2 separate regions of the Homo sapiens genome follow, and region 1 is linked to region 2. Evidence: fine-mapped expression QTL. Tissue or cell type: whole blood. Region 2 holds a variant in brackets; the other region holds the start of a gene. All regions are shown on one strand. Distances are between the middles of the regions.

Evidence for each region. PIP is the estimated chance that this variant, and not a neighbour inherited with it, causes the effect.
Region 1: it holds the start of TGFBRAP1, and the variant in region 2 is fine-mapped to the expression of TGFBRAP1 in whole blood (INTERVAL, PIP above 0.99).

Annotation. Positions count from the first base shown.
Region 1 is chr2:105,327,050-105,332,364 of GRCh38, forward strand. TGFBRAP1 (transforming growth factor beta receptor associated protein 1) reads right to left here and starts at 2,686. Exons shown (of 12, transcript NM_004257.6): 1 at 2,576-2,686. It overlaps C2orf49-DT (C2orf49 divergent transcript), which reads right to left. Exons shown (of 2, transcript NR_187479.1): 2 at 4,480-5,315. RefSeq lists a silencer at 2,571-3,000.
Region 2 is chr2:105,272,935-105,278,622 of GRCh38, forward strand. It overlaps TGFBRAP1 (transforming growth factor beta receptor associated protein 1), which reads right to left. Exons shown (of 12, transcript NM_004257.6): 7 at 4,680-4,737; 8 at 2,626-2,769; 9 at 610-756; 10 at 1-80. Among named protein-coding and RNA genes, the nearest start is that of GPR45, 34 kb to the left of the region's middle. The variant C/A (reference allele first, on the strand shown) is at 2,253.

The DNA.
Region 1 (5,315 bases), 54 kb after region 2:
GTATCCAAACACCTGGCTGCCACAAATGACTACTTTAATGTATTTCTAATGAGGGCTGGATTCAGACCAAGATGAAGACACTTAACCCATTAAGTAAAATTTCTTCAAGTTTTCTTAAAAGATCACAAATTTGTAATATTAGCATGAAGGAATAAGCCAAATAACTTCATTTTTTTTTTCCTAACAGAAATGTTAGCTGCATATCAGACCCAGAAAATACAGCAAGTTTTTTGGCTGGGCGCAGCGGCTCAGGTCTGTAATCCCAGCACTTTGGGAGGCCAAGACAGGAGGATTGCTTGAGGCCAGGAGTTTGAGAACAGCCTGGGCAACACAGGGAGACCCCTATCTCTACAAAAAAAATTTTTTAAATTATCTGGGTGTGGTAGTGCGAGCCTGTGGTCCCAGCTACTTGAGAGGCTGAGGTGGGAGGATCCCTTGAGTCTGGGAGATCAAGACTGCAGTGAGCCATGGTCACACCACTGCACTCCAGCCTGGGTGACAGAGCAAGACCCTGTCTCAAAAACAACAGCAAAAAAACCACCCAGAAGACAACAACAAAAAGAAAATATAGCATTTTTAAAATAGTGAGCTCTATGCTTTTAAAACTCCTCAACTGGAGCTGCCTAAATGAAGAATGGGCCCTTTACAAATCCCTGTCTCTGGAGGGTTTAAGCTGAGGTTAGATTGGTCCTGGGATTCCTGCAGTGGTGAAAACGCTCTGCCTCCAATGCTATGACAAGAGGACTGCCATGCACAATCATGAGTGTAGAAGAAAAGGCAGAGTGAATGAAGGCTAACAGTGGCACCTCACCTCTCACCCAATTCAATTGTGTAATGCAAACCTTGATGCACATAGCAAATTGGAATTCAGAACCCACAAGTCTAACTCCAGAGTAAATCATTTGTTAGGTTAACAATTACTCAAAACATAAAACTACATATTTTCAGAGCTGAGGGAGACCTGGCTCTACATCCTCATTTATATTTGTCAGCAATAATTTATTGAGCACCTACTAAATGCCAGACCCTGTGCCGGATCCTTTCCAGGCACAATTTCTTATTAGAATTCATGTGCCTTTTCTAATATTATCCCTATTTTGATGGAGGAATTTGAGACTCAGAATGTCCAGCAAATTGCCCAAAGGTCACAGGAAATGGCAGAGGCAGGATTTGAACCCACACTCCACATTCATTACCACCACAGAGCATCACTCCCATTTCATAGATGACCTGGGGCAGGCTAGTTATGGACAGGTTCCAGCAGATTCCAGCCAGTAGACTTTCTAGTACTCCAGGCAGCGTTTTGCTACACATCACAGAAGCAGCTGCAATGACTGTTGAGGCTGCTCGGCTGGCAGAAATGGAAGGAAAAAGAAAAGGAAGCAGCTGACCAAATGTTCCTTCTGACTGACCATGGAACTGCGAGCTCTCAGTTGTCTGCCAGCTTCCGGCTGACCAACAGAGAGAAGCATGTCCACCATGAGAGAGTAGCAGCCACCACACAGTCCCTCTACATTCGTTCATCCTGACTCCAACCAAGCCAACACACACAACGCAGTAGGATCTTCCCTGCACACCTTCTCAGTGCCTTAACTTGCCACCACAATCACACCCGCAGCTGCCTTCCTTCCTGATAGACAAGGTGCTTGCCCATGAGCACTTCATCAGTGATTAAACTCTGCTCAGACATGTTTTGACCACAGCTGCGCGTGCAGTCCACGTGCAGTAAGGCCTGCTGTGTGATCTGTGAGCCCCCATTTTTAGCAGCCAGGTAGGAGGCTTCCTGAGGGTCACTCAACAGTCCTTGGGTAGAAGCCACGGCAGGTGCAGACAACCGGACAGCTTCCGTGTTTAAGGATATCAACACTTAACACAGGGAGGCAGGCGGACTAACTTGCACCTGCACCTCCAGAAGGCAATGGAAAGAAAACAATTCCACAGGGATGACAGCTTCCAGCCCTTGACCTGGTGCTAAAAACAGGGGCCAGGAAGCCCAGCACAGCACTTTTCCCTACTCCCCAACACACCCCTGCCTACTCTCCAGATCAGGACAATTCAGGCCTGAGTGTGACCCGAATTTGAGCTCTCAAATCCAAAGAGCTCCCAGAAACCTCAATCACAGCGCCAAAACCATTCCATACCAGGGATGGAGGTGCAAGTCCTTCCTGGCCCTTCTCCCCGGAAAACCCAAATCAAGGACGAGGTCTCTCAGGTCTTCCCTTGCCCTAAACACACACGCACTCCTCACACACAACATACACACTTGACCCCACACCCGTGCACACTTCATCCCACACACACGTGAACACTTATTTGCTCACCCCAGCAGGCTAGCCGGCCCCCACAAGGGACAGCTACCAAGTCGCACACCCGCACACCTGCCCCCAAGTGTATAGCCACTTGCTCCCCCCACCCCGCGTTCCAGCCCCCACTACACCTGCCCCAGCGCACACGCACGGGCTCGCCCTCCACCCCGCCCCGCCGCCTACCCCCCACTCCTGCTCCCCGCCCTCCTGCCCCACGCGCCCCGCGCCCTGAGCCCCGCACCCCGCGCCCCGCCGCCCTCCTCACTCACCGGCGCCGGCGCCCGCCGTCCCGCGCCGCCCCGCGGCCTGGGGCCCCGCCGCCCCGCTCCGGCCCGCGGCTCCTGGGCTGGCCCGACCCCGCAGCCGCCGCTTCCCGTCACGTGGGGCGGCCGCCAGGCGCTGGCGGAGGGCGGGAGCGCAGCCGTCTCCGCGCCGCCCGCCGGCCCGCGGGCCCTGCCGCCTGGCTCCGAGCACAGGCCGAGACGGGCCCTGCTCCGGGCCTCGGCGTCCCCCTCCGTGCACCGGGGCCACGACACGGCCCGCCTCGCGGGGCGGCCAGCGGGCGGAAGGTGTTCATTCGGGGGGCGCTGAGGCCGCCGGCCCCGGGCGAGAGCGTGGTCCGCGCCAGCTGTGCGAGCCCGCGGGGCTGAGGTCTCTTCTCCGCCCCCGCCGCTGCGGGGAGCTTCAGGGAAGCCGGGCTTTGCCTGGCTCGCTCGCCACCCAGTTTCTGTCACCTACACAGGAGGAGGGCGCCCGGGAAATACCTGCTGCGTGAATGAATAAATGAATGAAATGCTTGGGCCCTGGGAAATGCTTGGGCCCGCGGCCGCCTGACCACGCGGGCTGGAGGATCGGACGTACCGCCGGTGCCCCACCAGGAGACGAAGGCATGGTTGGGATGCGCAGCCCTCCCACGAGGCCCATGGCGCCCCAGGGCCCTAGGGATTGACCGGGACCCCCGACTGGCAGAGTCCACCTGCTTGATACACTTATTTGAGAAGGGAGGCCTGGGACTATCTTACTCCTTTTAGGAAAACCCAACTGTAGCTGCTATTCCTTTGGTTCAGGCCGCAAGGAAGAATTGTAGGTTACCATGAATCCATGAACCCCTCTTTAGTATACAAAGTCCACTTTCATGACGGAAGAATTGGAAAGCTCCCTCCAGAGTTGTCAGTACTCAATTATTAGCATATAAAAAGTCAAATTTTCCCAGGGATTTTCAGACTTTAGAACCTGCTAGTGACCTGTGGCCTCAGCTTTCTTCCAGCCACTCTGAGTATTGTAAAACAAAGATATTATCCCAACCCTGAAGGCAGATACCAGATTGTACGCCATGGTCTTCTGTTTCAAAGGGATAAAAAAAGAAAGAAAAGAAACTGGCCAAAAAAAAAAAAAAAAAAAAAAAACCCAACAATCTTCCTGTGACTTGCCCTCTACCCCTACCCTAGTGTGACTCATGGCCACATAAATGCCCCATCCCCAGTGGTGCTTCAGCTGTGACCCAGTGGAACCAGTGTCACCGGCTCAGCCTCCAGGTAGGGGACTGGCTTCCCAGGAGTGTAAAGCTCTGACCAGCAATTGAGCTTCAAGGGCAAGCAGCAGTGAATGGACCTTCAAGTCTAAGGTGGCCAACAGCTAGTGGAGCCAGGGATTGGGAAGGTACAAGAGCAAATCCAGTCTCTTCATTTTACCCAGGCTCACAGAGACTATGTGACTTGTCATCAACTAATCACTGGCTCAGGTGGTCCTAGAATTCACCCTTGTGCTTTTGTATCTTAGTCCTCTACCAGATCACATCACAGAGAGCTGCACAAGACTAGTTACAGAGGTGATATCTACTGACTGCCAGACAGTGACTTCAGAAACTGCTAGTGACTGAGCAATGAAGTAGACGCTATTAATTTACTTAATAGCGTCAAAGAATAAATTTAATTCTTTGAGGCAAAGAAAGGTGAATGACTTCCTGTGTTAATTCACTTAGGAAAATATAAATAAAAAAATTTAAAAAGGTGACTTGTCCCAAACCCCATGCTAGTAAGAAAGAGCAACAATAAGAATCCAGAATTCAGCAACAGTAATTCTTTTTATATAAAGTTGTTTTGAATGAATAGTTTATGAACAATCTTTGTGTTCTACTTTAGATGATCCAGGAGTGAAAATGTATAACAAGAGATAATTCAGATATATTTATTTTATGAAAGGATTTATTACAGGATTCTTACAATGGCAAGCTCCATATTATTCCATCTAGAAACATCTGTTCCTTCTGAAACTTGATGAGAAGTCTGTGTCACAAATGACAGGCACCTCCATGTAAATGCCTGTACCATAAATGTGCAAATATATGCACAGGCCAAATTCCTTATGTTGTTTCTATTGGTTACATTTAAGAAGAAATATCAACCATATGGCTTTCAAAACAATTATTAACTTCATTTTTAAATATTTATTAAATATTCCTTGGGCCCATACCGAGCGTTACTTTACAGAATGTGAAAAAGATGTGCTCCGATGAGAACAATTAATGAAGACTGAGTTGCATCGATATAACTGAATATTTTCATAGTTGCTGTCTACTCTCAAAACTTAGTATTTTTATGCTTACACATACTCTGTGCTTCTCACTTTCTCGCTGGGTATACGCTTGGGAGGGCAAGGATTGTGTCTATGCTCTCTGCTGTATCTTTCTGCATGTAGAAAACACTCAACCAATTTTTAAAAATTCTTGATGCTCAATATTGAAATATTAACTAGATTACTTTTTTTTTTTTTTTTTAGACAGTCTCTTTTGCCCAGGCTGGAGTGCAGTGGTACAATCTTCTCAGCTCACTGCAACCTCTACCTCCCAGGTTCAAGCAATTCTCCTGCCTCAGCCTCCTAAGTATCTGCGACTACAGGCATGCACCACCACGCAGGGCTAATTTTTGTATTTTTAGTAGAGACAGGGTTTTACCATATTGAACAGGTTGGTCTTGAACTCCTGACCTCAAGTGATCCACCCACCTCGGC
Region 2 (5,688 bases):
CCCTTGCCACTGGCGGAGGCCCTCTGCAGCAGCACCTCTTCCAGGTACAGCACAGCTAAGTGGGTGTGATACTCTTCTTTCTGCAGGAAACAGGGGGAGCCAAGCAGACAGACAGTGTTTTCAAGTGGGAAAGTCAAAGCTCTCCCCTGTCAGCCAGGGCTTGGAGACCGCGGCTGCACTGACATGAGCTGGGCAGATGCTCACTTGCTGGATCGAAACCCTCTCAGAAACCATGATACTGAGATGAGTTTACCATCTATGGGGAATAGAACAAAATGTCACCTCTTATTTCAAGAAGTAAGGGCCACAGAATTTAGATAACCTACAAAAAGGTATAGCTCCCTTTATTTCCTTTAAGGATAATAACAAAGAAGGAAAAGAGAGGAAAAATAAAAGCTGAGTGGGTGTGAGACGGACGGAGAAAAAAATAAAGCTACCTATTGCTCCAGGTCTCTTTCCGCAAGCCTCAAGGCCGCCATCAGACCATCAACAAGTACGGATGGATCACCCAGGGAACAGACATTACACAGAATCACATGCCAAAAAGTGTTCTAGTTCAATTCCGTCTCTCCAGCCCACACTCTTTAGTCTAACTTCTGCAGTGCTCACCTGCAGTCTCTTGTCTATCACAAGATGTTCCAGATACTTCACAAGGGCTTTAGGGTATTTTTTAAGGCAATTGATAATGTCGTCTGGATTAAAACTGTTCTTCTGCTGTTCATCCAAAGGTCTCTTGGTGAAAACCTGAACTCCGACCTGAAAGAGGAGCGACAATACAGTGACTGTGCTTCCCAAACCCACCTTTCCTTTAACTTTATTTTGGTCATTGCACATTCAAGCTTTGGATAAAATCATCACTTAAAATATGATTAAATTATTATGTATGCACAGCTTTTTGTATGTCAATCATATCTCAATACAGTGGCTTAAAAAATATAATTATGGAGAAAAACAGCCCAGCATGAAGCACTGTCAAAGGCCAGAGGGCAAAAAATCAAGATAGAAAAGCCAGCCTATACCCTGAAGTCCTCCTCACACACCCCATGCAAATTGGAAACTGAAGAACAAAGCATTTACTGGTGACAGATTTTGACAACCTATAATAATAACATTAAGATCATCCAAGAACAGGGATAGCCAGTTGCAGAACAGTATGTGAAAAGATATCAAAAGTGCTGAAATTTCTGTACAGTAAACTCACTTCTCTGAACATGGATTATCTACTCTGGGTTATTTATGATAGATGGTTAATCTGAGATCTGAGCTTCCAGTCCCTGAGTAAGTTTCCGGGCTGCCTTCCTGTGTCCATCAAGTGGAGGCACTGGTCCAATCCTCTGGTTCAAGGAAAGGACAGTGAGGCAGGCAGGAAAGCAGCTCTCCACTGCACCTCCCCTGAGCACTTACATGTGGGAGGTTCTATCATGTGCACGCACACACGCACCTCCCCCCTCCAAGGCCAATACATTCACGTATCATGTATTATGGTATGAATTTTGGATTCTATAAGCCTGGATTTGTGTCCCAGCTCTACCAACTATAGCCTCAGTTTCCTCATCTGTAGCTAATGCCCACTGAGGGGCTGCTATGATGTTTAAGCGATGACCTTTGTCAGGGGATTGTCCACCGTGCAGTATCTGCTGTTATCATCCATAAGCATTGGGAGAAGCCTAAACCTTGCAACGGCACTGAGATCCATGTTGTAGGTGTGTGTGAGCAGGTCAGGATGTGCTCTGCAGGCGTGTGCACAGAGGCAAAGTAAAGATGGAGAAACAAGTATGCAAAGTGCAAGTGCCTGGCTCTGATTTTCCAGGGAAGCCAGCACCACGGAGGATATGAGAATATATTCCAACTCAGGTCTTAGAAAGGCAGATGCAGCACTCAGAAACTCTCCATTCAGGACCAACGTCCTGCATCAGAAAGCTCATTTTGTCTCTCCAAGGGGAGCCATGGAAGCGTATACGTTTTTCACGATGAGAACTGAAATGCTTGCTGTCTTCTTCCCAGTCACCTGTGGTCACCTGTGGGGCTTTACTAAGGATACTGTCCTGAGCCTGCTACCTTCCCTCTAGCCAACAGGTGCTTTTTCACTGCCAGCATTTCTCAGCCTCCAGGACAGGCCGAGTCTTGCTCATGGCTCCCCTCCCTCCTCCAGGCCCACAAGCTCCATGTTGGCAGTGGTGGGAGCAGGGATGAGGGCCCAGTGTGGCCCAGGTCTGGGTGCTTCCTCCTCCCAAAGATCAAGTCCTTCAGGG[C/A]AACCACCTAATCCTGCTCCAGAAAACAGCAGTGTCAGACTTCTGAGGGGTCGAGGAGCGGGGTTCACAGACACAAGTTCTTAAGAAGATGCTAAAAATGCAAGCTGGCTATGTCTTGCTTTTCTATACAAGTGACTTGCCCCAGCAAGGGGATTCTCAATGGAATGTCTCAGCAGCAAGATGCAGAACTGCCCTAGAGCTAGAATCCAGAGAGCTCAAGGGAAGGTATTAAAAGGGGAATAATAACAACAACAAAAAACAGAGGAGGAGGTTGAAATGTAGCTTTCTTTTCCCCTCCTAAAAGCAAAGCTTTTGGGGTCTGTTTTTACCACCTCCCCCAACCAAAGAGAATGCATTTTTACGAAGCACAAACCTCTTCACTTTTCTGCAGGACCCAATCAGCATAGGCCCACACTAGTTCCTCGTCTAAGCAGTAGGTAAGAAAATCCACGATGTATTCATACAGGTCTGAGCGTGTGGAGTCCTGGACATCGCCATTCACAATGTTCACCCACAACTGGAAAGGAATCAAAAAGAAAAAAAGAAAAAGAAAAGAAAAAACAATCATAAAGGCACATATCTCAGAATTAGTTGAGAAATGGCATATGTTTACTTATTTGGCTTTTTAATACCTTTTAAAGTAGTTGGAAAAACTGTAAATGCTTAAATTTTAGTTTTTTTGGAGAAATAAAGAAATGTAAAAAGACATAGTCCAAGAAATAAAAAAAAAAATTAAGCTCTAGGTTCTTTTATCTTTCTTTCTTTTTTTAACAATAACACAGTAAACAGAATATATGCAGGGAGGTGAATATATTAAAAATGTTTCTTCATGAAATAAAGAAAACGGTCACTGATAACATCTCGACACAGAGAAGATTCACCTACAACCATCAGCCAGGCTCTGTTTCCATCTTCTCCGTCACAGACATTCTTGATTTTGAAGTCCCCTTTGGACTGTGATAGGCAGATGTTGTGCTTTTACAAAAGCTTCAGTGATTCTGTCCCCTGAGTTCACACTGCCTTTTGCACAGGGGGCTCAGGATAGACTCCAGTGATAAAAGCCTTTTGCTTTTTCAGCCAGAAACTTCCCTACCATGTTAAGTGAAGCCTACTTTCAGGACCCCAGAATGAGGCAGCATCACTTGGGGGTAGAAAGGATGACGGTTGCGTGGGTTCCTTCTGCAATACCTGCATGGCGTGCCTCACCCACCCATACACAGCACCACCCCTCCAAGCCACAGCACCAGGAAGGAGCCCAGAAACAGGGGTGGCATATGAATTCTGGAATTCTGATGTCAGCATACGAACATTTTTTATGATACTAGTTTCTTCAACACAGAATTGCTGAAACCAAATAATCACACATACCTTGAAATATGCCATTTTATATAAAATTCTACCACGTATGGAGATTTATCCCATATCACTTCAAGTTTGCAAATCTATCTCTCTACAGCTCTGCTAAAGTTATTACTATACTTATATAAAGCTGTAACTGAGAACACCAGGTTTTTGAAAATGAAAATTTTATCACTGACACCCAAATCTACTCTTGGCCATTGGGTACGTGTTAATTCACCCAACTCCATTTTTTGTTGTTGTTGTTGTTCTGCTCTGCAATCAGGTTACCACAATAGTCTCACAAAGCAATCAAACACTAAATACATGTTCAGCCTTGCCAGAGTCATGAGGTTAACTTTAGCTTGGGGAACATGGCTGATGCTCTTGGCCCCTCACAAAATAAAGCAAAAAGGCACATCAGGAAACAACACGGTGCAGTACAAATGCATAACTAATAACGAAGGGGAGAAAGTCTCCCCCTGAGAGTGTGAGATGAGGCTTTTCTCAAGATCAGTAGCAAGATGTAAGATACAAAATGTGACAATGCTAATAAATCGATGCCATTTTGATTAGGGTGCAGGACCCCTGCCAGGCCAATGGAGCGCGGTTCAGATCCCAGATCTACCACGGACACATGGCCTCGGGCAAGCAACTGGCATGCATCAGCTTTGGTTTTGTCACAGGTGACACAAGGATAATAATGTACCCAGCTCATTGGCAACAGTGATCATCACTAACAGTGGAAATGGTAAATCCGACTATCATTCACTGCCTAAATTTTCTGATAAGGGTAGTGATATATTATGACTTGGAACTCTGTGAGATCATATTTTCATTTCTTAAGTTTTCAAAAACTCAGTCTTGATAATGTTCTTTAAGGAGATGGAAAGACAATGAGAAGAAAACTCTTGGCCAACATTTCTCCAGGAATTCACTTTCTAAAACAGAATCATTTTTATTCTGTATAAAAGGGTGTAGATCAGGCAAAAGTGGTCTCTATCAACTTGTGAATTTTTTTTAAGTAACACTAAGTATTACTTACATGGTGCTGATTTTTAAATCATGTGGAAACCCTTCTAGACTCACCTGAACTGCAGCAGCATCTTGGTTATTATAATGATAGAGCAGTCCAAGTGCAAAATACCTGAAACAGAACAACACGGTAAGTACAACCTCTCCCCATCAGCTCCTGGAGGCGACCTTCACACAGTGACACCCCCAGTCCAAGCTCCCCATATTCTATTCAACTCGAGTTCAGGCTCATGCCTGTAATCCCAACACTTTGGAAGGCCAAGGTGGGTGGATGGCTTGAGCCCAGGAGTTTGAGACCAGCCTGGGCAACAACATAGTGAGATCTTGTCTTTATTAAAATATTTTTAAAAATTAGCCAGGTGTGGGGCACACATCTGTAGTCCCAGATACTTGGGGTGCTGAGGTAGAAGGATCACTTGAGCCCATAAAGTTAAGACTGCAGTGAGCCCTGATTGTGCCACTGCACTCCAGCCCGGGTGACGGAGTGAGACCCTGTCTCAAAAAATATATGTGTGTGTGTGTGTGTGTGTGTGTGTGTGTGTGTGTGTGTGTGTAGTTCAACAACAACAAACAAACAACCAAAGGATTCTCATTGCTGTATATTTACTTATGGTACTAAAAATATATGCTCTATCAACTTCCAAAAAGAATCTGATTCCAATCTAAGATGAGCTGAAAAAGTAAACTATGGAAAAATCACAGCTGGAGTTGCTTTACAATTTGCTTCAAATATTAATATAATTTCATATGTCTTTGGTCTACTACTATTAACCCACATGAGGTACTAGAAGAATATGCAGAAGCTACTTTGCCTAAGCAGAGACTGAGAAGGAGGGCAGGGGCTCTGAACATGAGGAACAGCAGGAAGTGCTAGTGTCCGGGACTCGCAGACCACAGAGTCAGGGAGCGTCCTGGGGGAGAGTGCCCAGAGTTCAAGAACCTGGGTTTCAAGTCCAGCTTCATTATTTATAACCCGCGTGACCTTGAGCAAGTAGGTTAACTTGCCCAGCCTCTAACTCCTCACCTATAAATGGAAAAGATCGGCAATAGCATTGGCATTGCC